4 separate regions of the Homo sapiens genome follow, and regions 2, 3 and 4 are each reported to be linked to region 1. Evidence: microRNA targets listed by miRTarBase, many of them from high-throughput screens and not tested one by one. Region 1 holds a microRNA gene; each other region holds the end of a gene's coding sequence.

The links. The annotated mature microRNA hsa-miR-6854-5p reads AAGCUCAGGUUUGAGAACUGCUGA and lies in region 1 at 3,176-3,199, opposite strand. An mRNA with a match to its seed (bases 2 to 7 or 8) in the 3' UTR can be bound and repressed. Matches are read on the target gene's strand: a 7mer-m8 pairs with bases 2 to 8, a 7mer-A1 pairs with bases 2 to 7 and ends in A, and an 8mer does both.
Region 2: the mRNA of TSPYL1 is a reported target of hsa-miR-6854-5p. The part of its 3' UTR that is shown has no 7-base or 8-base seed match.
Region 3: miRTarBase lists POLDIP2 as a target of hsa-miR-6854-5p. Seed matches in the 3' UTR shown: 7mer-m8 at 1,824-1,830.
Region 4: miRTarBase lists ZNF841 as a target of hsa-miR-6854-5p. The part of its 3' UTR that is shown has no 7-base or 8-base seed match.

Annotation. Positions count from the first base shown.
Region 1 is chr9:98,226,014-98,231,161 of GRCh38, forward strand. MIR6854 (microRNA 6854) reads right to left here and starts at 3,204; the gene lies at 3,136-3,204. It overlaps TBC1D2 (TBC1 domain family member 2), which reads right to left. Exons shown (of 13, transcript NM_001267571.2): 5 at 2,939-3,135.
Region 2 is chr6:116,273,713-116,278,860 of GRCh38, reverse strand. TSPYL1 (TSPY like 1) reads left to right here. Exons shown (of 1, transcript NM_003309.4): 1 at 1-4,003. The coding sequence ends at 344. It also overlaps a transcript of DSE not described here. Among named protein-coding and RNA genes, the nearest start is that of TSPYL1, 3.6 kb to the left of the region's middle.
Region 3 is chr17:28,344,000-28,349,147 of GRCh38, reverse strand. It overlaps POLDIP2 (DNA polymerase delta interacting protein 2), which reads left to right. Exons shown (of 11, transcript NM_015584.5): 10 at 1-65; 11 at 917-2,515. The coding sequence ends at 1,031. TNFAIP1 (TNF alpha induced protein 1) reads right to left here. Exons shown (of 7, transcript NM_021137.5): 7 at 2,139-4,784. The coding sequence ends at 4,548. LOC124903963 (a long non-coding RNA gene) reads right to left here and starts at 918. Exons shown (of 2, transcript XR_007065687.1): 1 at 819-918; 2 at 1-115. RefSeq lists enhancers at 3,450-3,953, 4,457-4,960.
Region 4 is chr19:52,060,770-52,065,917 of GRCh38, forward strand. ZNF841 (zinc finger protein 841) reads right to left here. Exons shown (of 7, transcript NM_001136499.2): 7 at 3,696-5,148. The coding sequence ends at 4,338. It also overlaps the pseudogene LOC100419835. Among named protein-coding and RNA genes, the nearest start is that of ZNF432, 15 kb to the left of the region's middle. RefSeq lists an enhancer at 4,245-5,148.

The sequences.
Region 1 (5,148 bases):
AGGTGCCCATCTTCCCAGCTGATGAATGGGACTCTAATGAGGGTCTCAGATGGACAGCGGCTCTCCTAGCGGCATTCTGAGTGCCTGGGGGCACCACTGGGCACCCAGAAGTTGTGCTGGCTTTTTCTGTCTCACCTCTTTGGTTTCAGTATCTGGGCTACAGGTGAAACCCTAGAGTTACGGGGCTGCCATTCCTCCCTTCCTAATGTGGAATGAAGACCTAAGCTCCCTGATCACTGCTATGGCCCCACGGCACATTTCCTGAAGGCACTGATGGGCTCTCACTTCCCGCCTCGTCTCTGAGCCCCTCAGCAGGGCACCTCACTGCTTGTAGGGCAGGAAGAGATTGACATGGAGGGTAAGGAGGGCTGCAGTAATCGCCAGAACAACCAGAGCCTGCATCTGTTGGGCAGCTGCTGGGTGCCAGGTACTGGGCTTTATGAATCTGGGCACAGGTCTCTCCAGTAAACACGGCTGCAACTCCATTTACAGAAGAGGAAACTGAGGCTTAGATAGGTTAAGAAACTTGCTTAGGGCCAGAATTTGAGCCTGTGCTGTCTTATTTAAAGGCTGGTTCTTTGAATCACCCTGAAGACTGAAGTTCATTTGTGGAATGGGTTGGAGAGTAAACAAATCCACTCCTATTGCACAATAATTGGATAAACTAAATAAATCACAACTCATTCTCCTTTTGACCCTCTGTCCCAGGACACAAAGTCGAGGTTTGGTGGAAGGTTACCTGGTAGAAAAAAAATCCAGATTCTTCAATGCATCAACAACTTCCTCCTGACAATTTCCCTCTGAATATATGGGAGTTGTCAATAGCCTGGTCAACCCTTATTAATCTCCAAGAATCTTGCCTTTATTTATTGAAGAATGATGAGTCCTCCAGAGATGCAGAGCAATCAGGGGCAAACTTTCATGAAATCTAGGTTTCCTGGGGCCTTTCTACTTCATCTGACAATTTGTAATGTCTTAGAAAGAAAGGCTGTGTCAAGAGAGGCTGCCCGTATATTCAGGATTTCTTTTTCTTTCCAGGTTTGGGTTTCGGATTTAAGCTCTACTAGTCCAGGGATCAAGTAGCTGCTATGGCTCTGTTTCATGCCCTCTCAGCTCTCAGGAGCGTCCAGCAGCCTCAGAACTGGAGCACCATGATGACAGGAGGAAAAGACAGCTGGGCTGCTAAGCAGCAGCAGAGGGGACCTCACGTGTTATAACTACACATTTGGGTGTTGCTTTGTTTAATGTCTGTCTCTGCCATGAAATGCAAGCTGTAAGGGCAGAGCCTGTGTCTTTTGCTCATTGTTCTTTCCCAGCACCTGGAACACTGCATGCACATAACAGGCCCTTAATAAAAATTTGGTGAATAAACACATGAGTTAAGAACGTATGAATAAATGAGCCCCCTCCTTTGAGAACTCTAATGTCTAATCACCAGTTGCTTCACTAAATGTAACTCCTGGCCAGGCACGGTGGCTCACGCCTGTAATCCCAGCACTTTGGGAGGCTGAGGTGGGCAGATCACTTGAGGTCAGGAGTTCGAAACCAGCCTTGCCAACATGGTGAAACCTAGTCTCTAATAAAAATACTAAAAACAAAAACCAAAAAACAAAAAAAAATTAGCTGGGCATGGTGGCAGGTGCTTGTAATCCCAGCTACTTGGGAGGCTGAGGCAGGAGAATCGCTTGAACCCGGGAGGCAGAGGTTGCAGTGAGCCAAGACTGCACCACTGCACTCCAGCCTGGGTGACAGAATGAGACTCTGTCTCAAAAAAAAAAAAAAAAAAGTAACTTCTGACATGCCAGGAATGAAGCCTCTGCCGGTTCCCCTGAGATCTGCTGACAGTGGTCACTGCTTAGGGGCAGAAAAGGCAGACGAGGGGCCAAACTAGGTATAGGGAGAGCATTTTTTCTAGATTTCTTCCCACCAAAATAGGGCAGAAAAGAAAAGAAGAAATGTACAAGTTATAAGAAATATTCAGAAGGTAATAGGGCATAAGCCCCACCTCCCCAGCCTAAGTCCTCTGGAGTCAGGGCTGGAAAACAAAGCAGAAAGGGCCTCCGGGCAGCCAAAGTTCAAACACAAAAGCTTAGGCCTTCCTCTAGAGGAAAAGGAGTCTGGGCCCTCACTGGAGCCCGCCACTGCCACCACAGGTCCTACCAGGCCCCACCGTTGGGATTTATGTAACAACTGCCTAACTTAGTCGCTTTTATCACTCTAAAGAGGGGCTCCCGCCCGGAGCTGCAGCCCTCTCACATCTTTGCCCTGGGACCCTCACTACTTCATAAGGTAGCCCCTGGCTTTTAATACCATTTACTCTCTGGGATGTAGGATTTTGGAGTAGTTTTAATGTCTGTGTGTATGAGATCTGTTTTCTACAATTATTATATAGCTCTTGTAACTCTCGTAATTAACTTCTTACCATATTAAGCCCAAATATTCCTTTCACTGTTTCTGTGTTGGTCCTGGCTTAGCCCTGGGCCACACACATGCTGCTTGTTTGCTTTCTCCTGTGACAGTCTTGTGACGGTCATTCAGATATCTGTGCCCAGATATCGGCTGCCAGGTCAAAGTTCCCCCCAGTTCTATCGACAGCCCCTCCCATGACCCTGCATCCAGATCACCTGCCTCTAAATAATGTCATTTTCTGGGTAGGGGGTGAGACCATGCATGGCCCTCCAGGAGGGGTCCAAGAGACAGTTATTAGAGTAGATCTCCAGAGATACCTGCCCTTGGTGCCCTTTTGTGACTTACTTTGAGTGACATCAGGTTCTTGAGTAATCAACAGCATATTTCAACATTCTGCAGTTTGGCCTTTAAAGACCAGAGAGTAGCTGGTGCCCAGCACGGCTAATGCGTCCCATCTAGCTTATCCGAAAGGCTCCAGGAACTGGAGGGGTCCACTGGAACCTGGGGCCTCCCTGGGACCAGACCTCACCTTCTGAGACTTTAACTCCTTGGTGAGCATCAGAACCTGTTGCTCCAAGGCTGCCACTTTCTCCTGGGCAGTTCGGTTCCGTGTGATTCCTTCAGAAAAGAATGGGAAGGTGTTGTTCTGGCGCTTGGCTTTCTGAGCGAAACTGATGGTCAGAGAAGGCTTGGGTGCAGGCTTTGGAGAATCCTCTGGCTCTCTCCCTGCTCAAGAGGAGAAACGCAGAAGTTATGACTGATGACATCAGCAGTTCTCAAACCTGAGCTTGCTTTAGAAGCACCTGGAGGGCTTGTTAAAATGCGGATGGTTGGGCCCTAATTTCGGAGCTCTGGATTTAATAGGTCTGGGGCAGGGCTTGAGAATATGCACTTCTAAAAAGTTCCTAGGTGATGCTGACACAGCTTGTCCAGGGGTTAGACTGTGAGAACCACTGGCCTACATAAACGTTATTGCACTGTGCTGGCCCATCTGCTAAACTGTGCCTGTCTCCTTCCTTCAGATCCCACCCAGCCTGCATTGGTCTATCTCATGCCACCCTGCTGGTGTTTGCCAAGTGGCTTTCTCCTCAGGCACAAGCCCTGGCAGGATGTTCTGTTCCTTATTTCAGGATCCCACCTCTATGTACTAGGAGATTTTCAAAGCACACAGATCTGTCTGATGATAGGAACACAAAATGAATGTCTGTACTCTGCATTCTTGCTCCAGAGAGCAGCTCAAGCATTTAACTTGATTCTTCTTATTCCAAGCTAAGTTAAGAGATATATTTCCCCCACAGTTGATTGTCTCAAGGATGCATAGTCCTTTTATCTCCTGGGTTACAACCTATGGTTCACAGGCCAAATCCAGCCCACAGCCTGCTTTTACAAATAAAGCTTTATTAGAACACGGCCATGCCCATTTGTTTATGTGCTGTCTATTGCTGCTTTTACTCCTCAAAGGCAGAACTGAGTGCTTAAAACAGAAACCCTATGGCCCACAAAGCCTCGAATCGTTACTATCTTGCTCTTTACAAAAAATGTTTGCCACCCACTGTTTTTAAGTCATCAAAATTTTATTCTTAAATCAAACCAAACATCAGAGAATCATTCCCTTGTGTTGCCTTGTCCTGCCCTGACCCAGCTGTGCTTCTGGTCTCTGCCATCAGCCTGCATCAAGGGACATTTAAGGGCCTGACTATGTAGCCAAGGGCCCTTGAGAAGCTTGTTCACATGGGATATATACATCATGCCTATTATGAGTCCCCAGCAGAAGAAATTCCCTTCAGCCCTAGGAACTTCCAAGAAAAGCTTTGCTTCTTATAAGAAAATATGTTTTTAGTCTTATGGACACTGGAAATAATCTAGCTGCTTGCATTTCCCTCTTTGCCTTGGCTGCTGAGCTTACAGCCACATTTACTGCCTACTCTCAGATATTTTGTAGGATCGTAAATTGATCTTATCTAAATCTCCTAACCAAATTACTCATTTGCAGGAGTATGCATTTTAGTAAACTATTACCTATTTCTTGGGACTAAAGTGTTAAAGGTGTTGAAAATAAGAATGTGGTATGGCATCCCAGGATAGGGGACACGCAGGGCTTTGGGGATAGGCCAAATGACTTAGCATGAGACCAGGCCAAGGGCTGGCCAAACAGTCTTGAACAAATAAAGAGTTACTCCAGTAGGTGACAGGAACCAGACACTGAGTGCAAAAACAGTACCTTGCTCGGCCGGGCGTGGTGGCTCACGCCTGTAATCCTAGGACTTTGGGAGGCTGAGGCGGGTAGATCACTTGAAGTCAGGAGTTCGAGACCACCCGGCCAACATGGTGAAACCCCGTTTCTACTAAAAATACAAAAATTAGCCAGAAATCACTTGAACCCGGGAGGCAGAGGTTGTAGTGAGCCGAGATCATGCCAGTGCGCTTTAGCCTGGGCAACAGAGCGAGACTCTGACTCAAAACAAACGAACAAAACAACAGTGCCTTGCTGAGTGCAAAACCAGAACAGTCTTGTTCCAGATCGAAGAGAAATCAGGTTACACTGGGTACAAGGCAGCCTGCAGAGCTCAGAAATATGTACTACCTCTTTCTCCTTCCTGTAATGGGGTATAGGGGAGCAGGGAAGCTCCTTGTAGCACTGCTGCCCTCTGATACATGACTGTGCACCAACTCTGAGGACAGGCAGGGCAGGCCTCACAGTGCCCAGTTTATAATTAGAGAAAATAAGGCCTAAGACAG
Region 2 (5,148 bases), not on the chromosome of region 1:
TCTTTAGAAGAAACCCCTACTTCAGAAACAAGCTGATTGTCAAGGAATATGAGGTAAGATCCTCCGGCCGAGTGGTGTCTCTTTCTACTCCAATTATATGGCGCAGGGGGCATGAACCCCAGTCCTTCATTCGCAGAAACCAAGACCTCATCTGCAGCTTCTTCACTTGGTTTTCAGACCACAGCCTTCCAGAGTCCGACAAAATTGCTGAGATTATTAAAGAGGATCTGTGGCCAAATCCACTGCAATACTACCTGTTGCGTGAAGGAGTCCGTAGAGCCCGACGTCGCCCGCTAAGGGAGCCTGTAGAGATCCCCAGGCCCTTTGGGTTCCAGTCTGGTTAACATTTGCCCTTGGGAATACTCCTGCACAAGGTCTCCTACCACCTTCTGCTGGACCTGTGCTTGGGCATCAGCAATGAGTATGCCTTCTATTGTGCTTTGTTTTTGCTGACTTTTCTGCACCCTGTTTCCTTTGGATATTCAGTTCTCTCAACCTCAAGATTGAGACGGTGGTGGGTATGCTTCTCCACTTCCATATGACCTTCATGCTGTTCTGGAATATCACATGCTACGAGGTCATCCTTCACACTACTTGTAAGCCAAGCAAATGATACTGTAGATTGTACTGCCTTTATCTGCACTGCTTGGACCCTGTTTATTCCCAGGGCCTCTGAACTGGTTGCTGTCACTTGGATTTCTAGCTTTGGGAGCCTGTTCCACCTACTCAGCTCTGCATTGAGCAGTATGGGCACATGCCCTGTGGACAGTTACTGGACGTTAATGAACTCAGAGGAGAAAAGCAGTGAGCCACTTGTTCTGTGTGATTTATGGTACTTCATTGCTCTTCCTTCACCTCTAGTCACTTTCTATTGCTACCTGCCCTACATTGGCTCCTGCCAAGGTCCCTCTCTCTCCCTGTTTTCCTTTTTTTTTTTTTTTTTTTTTTTTTTGAGACGGAGGACGGAGTCTTGCTCTGTCGCCCAGGTTGGAGTGCAGTGGCGCGATCTCGGCTCACTGCAACCTCCACCTCCCGGGTTCAAGCGATTCTCCTGCCTCAGCCTCCCGAGTAGCTGGGACTACAGGCGCGCGCCGCCACGCCCGGCTAATTTTTATATTTTTAGTAGAGACGGGGTTTCACCATGCTGGCCAGGCTGGTCTCGAACCCCGATCTCGTGATCCGCCCTCCTTAGCCTCCCAATCCTCTCTTAAAAAAGTGATAGCTCAGAAACATTTGTAAAAGCAAGGTTTTTATTTCATTTTGGCTCTGTCATTTTCAGAGGCAAAGAAGTTGGCCTGTAAAATAGAGTGCTAGAGCTCTTACGCCCCTCCCCTTCTTCCCAACTTCCTACTTCCTAGCCCTTTTATCAACTCCTAGAATAGTTAAAGAGAGACACATCTAGATGGGATGAAAGGTGCCCTAAGCAGGAGAAACTGAACAAAAGGCTAGAGGCATGGGCCAGGTAAAAATTGGGCCTAGAGTGAAGACTGTGCTGTCGTTAAGAGCTTTCGAGGAAGGAGTACTTACTCCCCAATGATGATGAATGGAAAAATACTTTTCAGGGAGAATTGAAGGGGTTAAAGTGTTAAATATGTTGCCTAGACAAGGGTTCTTTAAAGAAAGACAGCGCAACTTTGAATGCTTTCTTACTTGTTTTGTGACCTAATTTATGTGGAAGATTGTTATTTCATTAGGATTTAGTAAAATTTTTTTTTCTGATTCTAAACTTATTGTGAAAATTGAGCTGTACAGATATTCTTTTGATTTCAATTGGGAACATTTGGAAGAACAACAGTCTTACTTGCCTGTACAATATAGAGACATATGAATAGTCATAACAGTTTTCAACTTGTTCTTGTTTCTGTTAAACTATATTCCTAGAAACATAGTTTGAACAACTTGGTCTTTGTTAGGCTTGTCAAATTGCCTTCATGGAAAAATAATCTACAAAAGTATGGTTTAATTGATTGTCTTACATGATAATTTTCCCTGGTAACAACTTAGTAAGTGATATATCTTTTTTCCTAAATTGCTTAAATACTGTGAAATTGCTCTGACAAATTGGAAGTGTACCATTGGCATATTTGTCTTCCTTTTTATGCATGATGGTAAAATAAAAGCATGTTGTTCTGCTAGATTTCTTATTTTTCACCTTACCCATAAATGTAATGCTTGAATGAAGTTGTTCATATTAATTAAAAATTATGGAATCATTAAAGTCCTTTAATCCATTAAAGTTCTTAATGGATTAAAATCATTAAAGTTCTTAATGGATTAAAATCATTAAAGTCCTTAAATTGATGTTAACTAAAAATTACAGAATCATTAAAGTCCTTAAATGGACACAATAGACATTATCCCAAAGAGAAGAAAGCAGGGCACGGTATGTTTGGTACCTTCCAAGGTAGTTTGCCTTAAAACGTTAGCAGTTGCAACTGCTTACTCAATCACTTTTTTCCATGTAGTTTATGCAGCACAACCTCCCCTTCAGTTGCTCAAATCCTCCATTTCTGTCTCCATAAATTATATTCTCAGGTTATTCAGGCTCTTCTTTTTATTAACTTGTATGCAGGGAGTACCTATCATATGTGATGTACTCCTCTATTTTCATACTTTCTCATCTGTAAAAACTTCCTTTTTTTCTTTAAACTTCCTCACTGTTCTCTTCTGTCAAATCCTTCAAGGCCTGCCCTTGGTAATTCCTCTGCCAAAGTCTTTCTGTTCCCCATAGAGGAGATAAATGTTTCTTTATGCACTTAGTGTACTTTGGAGGGACCTCTGTTCTAGAAAATTAACATAATTATTCATTACAGTGAATTCCACAAATAGAGAAAAAGAGTAAGAAGATAAAGTCCATTCCCTTCTTTGGGGAACTGGGGAAGGACTGATAAGCAAACAAAGAATTAACAGAGTGATACAGTAAAATAAAATACAGAGATTATATTTTCATGTTTTTCCCATGTTCACTCTTTTCCTCTCAGTAGTTTGGAAACTTTGTGAAAGTGGAGATGCAGTGCATTTTACATGGTTCATTGCATCTAGCATTTTTTTTTTTTTTTTTTGAGATAGAGTCCCACTCTTGCCCAGGCTGGAGCGCAAGTGGCGCGATCTCGGCTCACTGCAACTTCCGCCTCCCGGTTTCAAGCAGTTCTCCAGCATCAGCCTCCCGAGTAGCTGGGACTACAGGCACGTGCTACCACGCCCGGCTAATTTTTTGTATTTTTAGTAGAGATGGGGTTTCACCATGTTAGCCAGGATGGTCTCCATCTCCTGACCTCGTGATCAGCCCACCTCAGCCTCCCAAAGTGCTGGGATTACAGGCGTGAGCCACCGCACCCAGCCCATCTAGCATAATGTTTTGCATAGTTGTCAGCAGATAAATATTGAATGACAAAACTCAGATGGAGGAAAAAGAACAAAATAACCTAGTTCTCAGAAAGATTTAATGAGCAAATGGGAAAATGTCAAAAAGATTTGCAATGCCATTCCTAAATAACTATTTCCCCTTTTAGTCATTAGAAAACGTCTAAACACTTTCAACATTAAATCTTTCACTTGCATTTTAACAGAGCACTACTTAATTTTGGGTTACCTTTTATATACTTTGTACATTTTAAGGTGATTATACTGGAGATAGAAGGGGGTTAGACTCTAGATGTGTGTTGTCCAATACAGTAACTTTTAGCCACCAGTGGCTATTGAGCACTTGAAATGTGGCTAGTCTGAATTGAGATCTATAAATATAAAATTCACACTGGATTTTGAAGACTCAGTATGGAAAGAAAAATGTTAAAATATCTCAATTTTTTTCATATTGATTGCATGTTGAAATATTTTTGACATTGTGTTAAAATATATTGAAAAATTAATTATCCTCATTTTGCCATTGTTTAATGTGGCTACTAGTAAATCTAAAATTACATAGGACAGCATGTCTCGACTTCCTGAGGAATATCTGAAAGCATATAAAATATCTGTAAAAATTAAACATGTTAATACTTTCTCCTCCTGAAGCTTCTTGTGACTAAGATAAGGGTTATCTTGCTTAAATTCAAGGCCAATGGGTAAAAAGAAGGTGAGTAAAATTTCTTTAATGAACTGTTCTTGAGTACTTAAGATGCACTGAATATTTTGCAAAATGTACTGTGCAACACTTTCTTGATATAGGCAGGGTAGATTTTGATGCCAAATTGACACAGTTATATTGGTTTAATTTTTAGTGACTTTTAAGACCAATATATGCATATTTTCTAAAGTAAAATGCTCTTTTTTTTTTTTTTGAGACAGAGTTTTGCTCTTGTTGCTCAGGCTGGAGTGCAATGGCACCATCTCGGCTCATGGCAAGCTTCCGCTCACCGCAACCTCTGCCTCCTGGGTTCAAGCGATTCTCCTGCCTCAGCCTCCCCAGTAGCTGGGATTATAGGCATGCGCCACCACGCCCGGCTAATTTTGTGTTTTTGGTAGAGAGATGGGGTTTCTCCATGTTGGTCACGCTGGTCTCAAACTCCCGACCTCAGGCGATGTGCCTGCCTCGGCCTCCCAAAATGCTGGGATTACAGGCGTGAGCCACTGTGCCCGGCCAAATGCTCTATTTTTAGTTTACAAATGTACATGATGTTCAGAAAATATTTTCAGTCGTATTTTAACAGTTGGCTAGCAACAGAAAAGGAAAATATCTGAGTCTAGCTCTGCATTAAGTCAGTTCAATGAACGCGTACTACTTGAAAAAGCAGCCGGGCAGGGTGGCTCACGCCTGAAATCCCAGCACTTTGGGAGGCCGAGGCGGCTGGATCACCTGAGGTCAGGAGTTCGAGACCAGCCTGGCCAACATGGTGAAACCCCGTCTCTACTAAAATTACAAAAATTAGCTGGGTGTGGTGGCAGGCGCCTGTAATTCCAGCTACTCGGGAGGCTGAGGCAGGAGAATCGCTTGAACCCAAGAGGTGGAGGCTGCAGTGAGCCAAGATTGAGCCATGGCACTCCAGCCTGGGGACAAGAGAGACTTCGTCTCAAAAAAAAAAAAAAACAAAAAAACATACTTTTTGAAAATTAGTGGTCTGTAATTGTAATCTTGCAGTAGTTGTTTATTGAATACTAGCATAAGTAAGGATTGAATGGGATAGTAAAGGTTGTCTTTGCCCTTGAGGA
Region 3 (5,148 bases), not on the chromosome of region 1:
AAGGAGCAGCCTGCGTTCCAGTATAGCAGCCACGTCTCGCTGCAGGCTTCCAGTGGGCACATGTGGTGAGTGAGTGTGCACAGCAGTAGGGGCCACCCAGCTCCACAAACAGAAGCTGTAGGTCAGAAAAGTGAGAGCTTAGAGCTTGCCATTAACTCTGGGCCAAGTTACATTCTTAGAGGGAGCCTTATCTGCTATATTGTTGTGTGGGACTTGTCTGATTTTCTATTACCGCCTGTTTCCCAGTACCCTGTGATTTGTGGACTGAGGACTTAGGCTAAAGAGGTCTGGTGATTTGATGCTGCAGAATTGCTTGTATAGTTGGGTTTTTTCCCTTGGTGTTTCACTCCTTTACCTGAAAATGCAGTTGGCTAGCTTATGCAGTATGTATCTAAAGGCCAGAATCTGGACAGCTGTGTTTTCCTTTTTTCTTTTGTGAGATGGAGTTTCACTTATTGCCCAGGCTGGAGTGCAATGGCACAATCTTGGCTCACTGCAACCTCCGCCTCCCAGGTTCAAGCCATTCTCTTGCCTCAGCCTCCCGAGTAGCTGGGATTACAGGCATGCGCCACCACGCCCGGCTAATTTTGTATTTTTAGTGGAGACGGGGTTTCTCCATGTTGGTCAGGCTGGTCTCAAACTCCCCACCTCAGGTGACCTCAGGTGATCTGCTGGCATCAGCCTCCCAAAATGCTGGGATTTCAGGCGTGAGCCACTGCAGCTGTGTTTTTCTTTTCATGGATAACCATGAGGGGCTCTTGGGTCTCTGGACCAGTCATCCTGTCATGAGCTAGAGATAGAAGAGAGCTCAGGCTCACATGTCCTCTGTGGCTGGCAGCTGAGGGCATGGGGCCATCCAGATCCTTAGGAGGCCTCAGCCCTGGCTCCTTCTAAACCAGCTTCTTTCTGACTGTAGGGGCACGTTCCGCTTTGAAAGACCTGATGGCTCCCACTTTGATGTTCGGATTCCTCCCTTCTCCCTGGAAAGCAATAAAGATGAGAAGACACCACCCTCAGGCCTTCACTGGTAGGCCAGCTGAGGCCCCAAGTGCCCAGGCTTGGTCACCGGGAAGAACAACTCTCATCCCACAATTGCTGCAGAACTCTTCTCTCCCCATCATGGGCCACAGTGGGTCTCTTAATTTGATTGTGGGGTTCTTTTTGTGGGGAGGGGTGGTATAACTTTTCTTCAGAAGACCCATGTGGGACACCTCCAAGGCTGGCCTCCTCATAAGCCCTGCCTACACCATGTTCCAGTAAACCTCTCCACCAAGGAACTGTGTTCAGCTGCCACAGGCCTGGAGGAGTTTCCTGGCCTGTCACGTGAGGTTTGATCAGTAAACCAGTGCACGCTTGGCCACCCTTGCCATTTCTGCTCCCAGAGTCTCAGGCTCCCCTTCTGACCCAGTGTGCGCCCTTGACTGCTTTCTTTGCTGCCCTTCCAGGGAGCTGCCCCCCTGGTAGGGCATGTGCCTGTTTCCCTCTCAGCCTGGAGGCTGGCTGGACATCTCCTAGGGTCACTGTGCCTCTCAGCTAGTTGGCGGGGGTGCTGGACTGGACTCTTGTTCACTTTACCTTCTGCCAAATGCAGAGAGGGAGGCCAGTGTCAGGGTCGGAGTGGCCTGGCTCTTAGCACTGACCGACCATTGCCATTTCTGGCCTCGCTAGGCCCAGGAGAGGAGGGAGGCAAGCCAGTCGGGTTTCCTGGAGCAATGGGTGTGCCAGCCCTCAGCATGACTCTGCCAAGCATCCAGACCACAAATGCAGGAATTTGGCTGAGGAGCAGCTTTAGGTATGGATTGATGACTAAGTCAAGCTACTTCCTGAGCTTCTCTCAGATTTCCAAGAGCCAGAGATGAATTGTGCTGCATCTTGCCCCAATTCTTAGGATTTCTTTTCCTCCGCCACTGCAGTGATTGTTAGAGGTAGTTTTCTTGAATTAATATTAAATCACAGTTCCAGCCCTTGTTATTCTTGTCCTTAGTCCTCCAGGGGGAGCTGGGGTTGCAGGGCAACAGTACAGTCGCGCTTACGACCTGGCTAGAACACAAGGTCAGATGATAAACAGAAGCACAGGAACTCAGCCCATGGCCGCAAGCTGGTCAAGGCCTGCTCACTGTAAACATGGCTCTGTACCATTGAGTTTAACACAATTTTATTAGAAATTAGTGTTTGCTTCCATCACTTATGCTGAGCAACCAAATATTACAGTTATGTGATAAAGGAAAAATTCTTTCCTGCCCAGGACCTGCGCCATCCTTTAGGCCGACCTTGGTCACATACCAAATTCAATAAAACCCAATACTGGCCTGTGTTGTTAACAGCAGGCTGCCAGGTTTCTCAGAAACTGACAAGAAAATCTGACCTTCATCCATACTTTGTTTACTTACCCCTGGGCTGCTTGGAGTTGAAAAATGCACACAGCCAAGAGTTGCTTTCTGAATAGGGCTGGAAACTTTCAAAGAAAACCCCCAAACTTTTAAGTCACAAAGTCTGATTAAAGAAGCTAAGATCATGTCAGTGAGTTCAATGTTAGTATTTTCCTTAAGACCAAGGAGAGATTTTCAGTCAGAGAAGATAAATGCCCAGTCCCAGACTACTGTGCTTTCTCGGCAAAAAAGACTGAGACACTGAGGATGTGAATGTCAAAGTAGTAAGCAGGGACTAAAGGGGATGGGGAGGTCAAAAGGCAAGCATCACAACACCTCAGTGGGGAGCTGGGAATTTGAGTGTTAAAGGACCTCAAGAGGGCAGCTGAGAAAATAGGCCAGTGGTCTCAGGCTGACGCATTCCAGTCTCTGTGGGAAAGTCATAAAGCCAAAGCCTGAATTTGGCCAAAGAAGTGGATTTGTCTTTATCTTGTTACCTCAATGAGGGCTGGAAGAACTAGTAGCTGATCACCAAGGTACCTGACCTGAGAGTCTTAGTGCTGTTTATACATTCAAGACTGTGACTAACATAAAATGCCTAATTAGAAAGTCACATTTCCCCTGTCCCGCCGTCATGTCACTTCAGGTCCTTGTGTCTAACCCTGGGTCTGGCATTTGCCCATAGGCTCTGTGGCATCAGCTATCATAAGAGTAGTCAAGAGAGATGAACTTGATAACCTGTGTTCTCTCCAAAGAGCAGAAAGTGGGTACTATACGTGGCTACGTTGCTTTGTTAGGCTGGCAGAACAGTCCCTCCCTGACAGCATTCCTTTGGAAAATAATTCAGATAAGCTGAATTCTGGTTTGGCCAAGCCAAACAAAAAGGAATGAAAACCAAAGCCCTAAAGAGGAACTCACCTCCTGGCTAGTGCTTGGCATCTCCATGGCTGAGTTACCCAACAAGGAGTGAAGGCCTTCAGGGTGCTTCGGTTGCTCCTGTCATCCCGCGCTCAGAGACACCACTGGGCAGAACCGCCATCCCAGCCAGCACCAACCAAGAGCATAGATGGTGTGGGCAGGGAGTAGATGTGTGGCCAAGCATGTGCCACCTCTGTAGGGGCTGCTGGGAGTTTGCTGTCCTCAGCTGATGGGCATGCCAGCCAACACCATGCAGTGCCCACGGGCTCCACGGTCTTCCTGCCGTGGCTCATGTTTCTGGCCCATGTGACAGCTCTTTGGCTTTACCGTATGTGAGGACAGCATGGCTGGAAGCCAAGGGTACTCAAGAGAATCACAAAGAGCAGTCGTGCTAGACCTAGGAGTCAGTGATGTGACTATGATGTGGGGGTAAAATGTCCTTTCTCACAGGCACCCTGTGAGGACTGCCGGTCCCAGCTTAGCCATCCTTCCCTCCTCGGTGCACTCTGAGCTGCTGGCCAGGCTGCAAAGCCAGAGCTGCTCTGTCGGATGTTTTTTTTTTATTGCTTCCTCTTTATCCCCTCCCTCAGATTGATTCTGCAGGGAAGTGGGGATTAGGGTAGAAAGACATGGGTCAAGGAGATTATCAACCTCCTGAATAACAGTACAAAGTGCTTTAAAGAAACAGATCCCACAGGCATGGAGAAGGGCCAAGGGTTCTGTCATATGTAGGGTCTTGGCACCCTGGAGGGCAAAAGAAATGCTCAGTTTCCTCATTACTAGATTTAGAATTATTCATTTCCTAGATTATTTTTTAAAAACCAAACTTATCAAGCCTGTGCTTAAACACCTTAGGAAAAAAGACGTCCCACTTTCTGCACCAGGGCCTCTACAGCACCAGAACTGCCTTTCCCCCAGCTGAGGCCTAAGGGGCAGTAGCCTTCTGCACAGGGCCTAGGGGAAGGTTCTCAGCAGGAGGTGGGTCAGTCCATATGCCCCAGGGAGCAGAAGCAGCTCCGTCGGGCAGGAAGGGTGATGGTGAGCAGATAGGACAGGACGCAGTCTCCAGAAGTGCTCAGGGGCAAGGCAGGGGAATGTGGTCCCTCCTCTGCCCAGACCCTCTGACCTCTGAGCAGGGCCTGTCATGCCTCTGGGTGCTAGAGCAGAGACCCAGGCAGCAGCAGCATGGGGTGGCCAATGGGGCGGGTTCCACAGGATGGGAGATAGGGCCTCCCGTGCCCTGACTCCCTGAGGGTCTGGTCAGTCGCGATGGGTAGACTGGTGGCCGAGCTGCCGGTCATCGTAAGTGCTGTAGCGCTTGACGTGGATGCGGCGGACACGGTCCCGCAGTTCAAAGGTCTCCTCATCTTCACTGGGGGAAGCCTGGCTGCGGCTACGGCTTGTGGCCTCCAACAAGGAGTTGTCGGGGACGCGGGGAGTCTCATAGAGTAGGACGTTGAGTGTCTCCTCATAGATTCGGGCCTCTGGGAATTCCACCTGGGGTTAGGGAGGAAGAAGGTGGAGCAAGGTTTCATCTTCAAGAGGAAGCCATGCGTCAGAGCGGCTGGCCCTGAGGCTCCATAAGGCCTCCGCTACCTCTCATAAAACAGGTGGCGGTCCGTCTCCAGGGAAAGCCAGCCTCCCTCCGAAGGCGGGGTGAGGGGATGTACTCTACAGACATGAGGACAGGGAAGACCAACATCCTCCACACCCCTGCCCCAGCCTGAGACCAAGGGACTAGTGGGCATAGAGGGTGGGCCAGAGCTAGGTCCCAACACAGCTCTACCACTTGCTAGCTGTGGAGCCTTGGGCTGAACCCTTCTGGGCTGCAGCTCCCATATGTACAAAAGGTTGGTTCAGC
Region 4 (5,148 bases), not on the chromosome of region 1:
AACTCACAGGTTTCAGGTGACTTATGCTGCTTTTATTTATGCTAAATTCTTCCCTTCTCCCACCCAACTGGCAAAGGACAGAAAACCCACCTAGCTATGCACAAAAGGTTACACAAGTCAGAGGGTCCGGGCATGTGGTCTGTGTGGTGCATGGTGGTGGAGGGAATTCATGAAAAGGAATTTATTATTGCCTAAGTTGAGAGCGTTAAAGGGTTGTTTTAAGTGAGATAGAAAAACTTTAAGTCAGGTCCTCAGTGATGGAGGGAACCATTCCAAAGTGGTGCCAGCACCCATCTAAGGTCAGAGATGTCTGACAGACTAAGTTGGGGCCCTAAAGGGGGGATGCCCCAGGTAAAATTTGGGTCACCTAATGAGCCCTCCACTTTTCAAAGTCCTCTTCTCTTTTCCAAACCACTATGGGCAACTCTCCACCTATTCCACCTGATTCCACACTTGGCTACATCCTCAACCATGGAAATCAATTTGACCCTGACACTCTAAAGATAAAATGTAAAATTTTTTTTGCACTATTGTCTGCCCCCATTATGAACTGCCCAGCCTGGAACAATGGGCAGTCTTGGTAGCCTTAATTATGACACCATCCTGCCATTAGACCTATTTTGCAAGAGGCAGGGCAAATGGTCAGAAATCCCATATGCACAGGATTTTATGACCTTATACCAAAACCTAGCAATCTGTCAAACTCCCAGAACCCACCCCCACCACCAAAGGAAAGTTCTAAGGTAGAATTAGATATTATAGATGATCCCCCCCACTCTTACTTTTTCTTTTTTGAGACAGAGTTTTGCTCTCATCGCCCAGGCTGGAGTGCAATGGCTTGATCTCCGCTCACTGCAACCTCCACCTCCCAGGTTCAAGCAATTCTCCTGCCTCAGCCTCCCAGGTGGCTGGGATTACAGGCACACACCACCATGCCCATCTAATTTTGTATTTTTAGTAGAGACGGGGTTTCTCCATGTTGGTCAGGCTGGTCTCGAACTCCCGACCTCAGGTGATCTGCCCAGCTCGGCCTCCCAAAGTGCTGGGATTACAGGCGTGAGCCACCGTGCCAAACCAGATGACCCCCTTTTACAAGAGCCACTTGTCTCTAAGGGTGAAGAGCGACCATCCCTATAGCCCCCTTACCAAGTGCTCCTGAGGCTAAAACCAGGAGCAAACACTGGGGACCCTACTAAGTCCCCCAAACACTCAGTGGGGAACACCATATTCTACTCTCCCTCCAGCCTTGCTACCCCGTAGGGAAGCAGCAGGAGCCGAATGGCCAGTCCTATTGCAGGTCCCCTTCTCTATAACTGATATACAGCAATGTAAGGAAAAGCTAGGAAGCTACTCTAAAAATCCTAGGAAATTTGCAGAAGGGTTCCAAAAGTTGACCTTATTACTATTGCACTCCAGCCTGGGCAACAGGGTGGTGACATGATAATAATGTCAATTTACAAAGATGATTTGAGAATCTTGTCTGTATGCACTTAAAACCAGCTGCAAAACATGTGAAGCAACAAGTGACAGAAGTGAAAAGAATGTACAAATCTAGGTGGAGCACAGATTTTTAGGTTAGTGAAACATACTCCGTATGTTTCCCATATCCCAAAGCAACACTGTATTTGTCAAAGGACACTCTGAACACAACAAGCTCAGTGACTTACATTGTAAATTTACATCATTCTCCACCATATTCCATGCTGCTTAACTCACACAGTACAGTGACCTTAATCTTCCAGAAAACATGGATATGAAGGAACCACACCTAATGAAGCAGGCCCTCTCACCTTACTGATTTATTCCCAGAGACCACAATGAAAGATGTGTAGGAAAGGCAAGACTTCATACTTTAGGATGAAGGTCACAAATAGTCAACTAGCCTTTTTAAGAAATGTCAAAGTGAATACAATTATTTTATATACTGAATTGGCCATTTCCACACACGCTCTTGATCCTTTGATGTACATATTACCTGGGGTTTTAACAAATTTTGTCTTGTGGTTATTTTACCGTATGTATCATTCCAGGTCAATCCTGGATGGAGAAGCAGACTTAGTTATCCATAGTATGATTTACCTAACATGGAATCTGTTGAGAAATTTTTTTTTTTTTTTTTTTTTTGAGACGGAGTCTTGCTCTGTCGCCCAGGCTGGAGTGCAGTGGTGCAATCTCGGCTCACTGCAAGCTCAGCCTCCCGGGTTCAAACAATTCTCATGCCTCAGCCTCCTAAGTAGCTGGGACTGCAGGCACGTGCCACCACGCCTGGCTAATTATTTGTATTTTTAGTAGAGACGGGGTTTCACCGTGTTAGCCAGGATGGTCTCGATTTCCTGACCTCGTGATCTGCCTGCCTCGGCCTCCCAAAGTGCTGGGATTACAGGCGTGAGCCACCGCATCTGGCTGAGAAATGGTTTAAAATTTTACCACGTTAATTACATTTGCAAGGTTTCTATCCAGTATGAATAATTTGGTAAAGCCTGAAGACACACTACTGATTAAAGGTCCTTCCATGTTAAGCACACTGATATGACTTTTTTCCTGTATAAATTCTCTCAAACTCCAAAAACATGAACATTTGATTTTTTTATTTTTTTGAGACAGAGTCTCACTCTTGTCACCCAGGCTGGAGTACAATGGCGCAATCTCGGCTTACAGCAACCTCCACATCCTGGATTCAAGTGATTCTTCTGCCTCAGCCTCCCAAGTAGCGGGATTACAGGTGCCCACCACTGCCCAGCTAATTTTTGTATTTTTTAGTAGAGATGGGGTTTCACCATGCTGGCCAGGCCGGTCTCAAACTCCTGACATCAGATGATCCACCCACCTCGGCCTCCCAAAGTGCTGGGATTACAGGTGTGAGCCACCATACCCAGCCCATTTGATTTTTAAAAAGGCTTACCACATTCGTTACATTTGTAAGACTGTTCTCCAGTATGAATACTCTGATGTTTCCATTTGGATGTTCGGGTAAAAAGTCTTAGCACACACATTACATTTGTCAAAGATGTATATTCTGAGGTCTAGTGAGTTCAGACACCTCGGGGAAGCCTCTAGCACATACATTTATACGATTTCTTTCCAATATAAACTCTCAAGTAGTGACTGAACTCTGGTGAAGCTTCTGCCACCCTCATTTCATTTGTAAAGCATATCTGCACTTTGAGTTATAGATCCACAAGTTTTGACCTTTAAGTAGTATTCTTGCCACATATACTACACTTCTGTGATTTCTCTCCAGGATGTATATTCTTATGCCTAGTGAACACTTGCTTAAAACTTAGCTATATTCTGGCCGGGCGCAGTGGCTCACGCCTGTAATCCCAGCACTTTGGGAGGCCGAGGCGGGTGGATCATGAGGTCAGGAGATCGAGACCATCCTGGCTAACAAGGTGAAACCCCGTCTCTACTAAAAATACAAAAAAAATTAGCCGGGCGCGGTGGCGAGCGCCTGTAGTCCCAGCTACTCGGGAGGCTGAGGCAGGAGAATGGCGTGAACCCAGGAAGCAGAGCTTGCAGTGAGCCGAGATTGCGCCACTGCAGTCCGCAGTCCCGCCTGGGCGACAGAGCGAGACTCCGTCTCCAAAAAAAAAAAAAAAAAAAAAAAAAAAAAAAAAAAACTTAGCTATATTCACTCCATGTGTAAATATATTAGGCCATAATTGCATGGCTAGACAGAAATACCTGAGGCTAGGTAATGTATAAAGAGGTTTAATTGACTCACAATTTTGCAGGCTTTATAGGAAACATGGCGCTGACGTCTGTTCACCCTCTCGGGAAACCTGAGGAAGGTTAAAATGATGGTGGGAGGTGAAGGGCATGTCACATGGCCAGAAGAACAAACAAGAGGGAGGTGCCATTCACTTTCGTGCGTGCGTGTGCGTGATGGAGTCTCACTCTGTCACCCAGGCTAGAGTGCAGTGGCGCGATCTCGGCTCACTGCAACCTCCGCCTCCAGGGTTCAAGCAATTCTCCTGACTCAGCCTCTCGAGTAGCTGGTACTACCAGTACCCGCCACGAAGCCCAGCTAATTTTTGTATTTTTGGCAGAAACAGGGTTTCACCATGTTGGCCAGGCTGCTCTTGAACTCCTGACCTCAAGTGATCCGCCCACCTCAGCCTCCCAAAGTGCTGGGATTACAGGCATGAGCCAGACCTCATGAGAACTATCACAAGGACAGCAACAAGGGGATGGTACTAAAACTTTCTTGAGAAAGCCACCCCCATCATCCAATCACCTCCCACTAGGCTCCACCTCCAATACTGGAGATTACTACAATTCCACATGAGACTTCAAAGGGAAAGGACAAATATACAAGCTATATGAGTAAGTATAAATTATTTGGGGATCCCAGAGGTTAGGACAACATCTAACGGCCTTTCCACATTGAGTTTAGTTGTAAGGTTCTCTCCAGCATGTTTTATCTGATGTTTAGTGAGGCCTGAGCGACTAATGTAAGATTTGCCACACTCATTACATTTATAAGGTTTTTCACTAGAATGAATTCGTTGGTGTTTAGTGAGGCAAGACCGCCGCCCAAACGCCTTGCCACATTCCATACATTTGTATGGCTTCTCTCCAGTATGGTTTCTCTGATGGTAAACCAAGTTTGACCTTTCGATAAAAGCTTTACCACATTCATTACATTTATAAGGTTTCTCTCCAGTATGCATCATCTGATGATTAAGCAGAATTGAACGTACTCTAAAGGCTTTGCCACACTCATTACATTTGTAAGGTTTCTCTCCAGTATGAATACTCCAATGACGTGCGAGGCCTGAGCGATAACGGAAGACCTTGCCACATTCATTACATTTGTAAGGTTTCTCTCCAGTATGAATTCTCCGATGCCTTGCCAGGGTTGTAGTGGAGTTAAAGACTTTCCCACATTCAATACATTTGTATGGCATCTCTCCAGTATGTCTTCTCTGATGGTACACCAGACTTGTTTTATGACTAAAAGTTCTACCACATTCACTACATTTGTGTGGTTTCTCCCCAGTAGGATTTCTGTGATATCTTGCAAGTTTTGAACTTTGGATAAAAGCCTCACCAAATTCATTACAGTGGTAAGGGTTCTCTCCAGTATGAATTACCAGATGTTTAGTGAGGCTTGAACGCTGAGTATAGGCTTTGCCACAATCATTA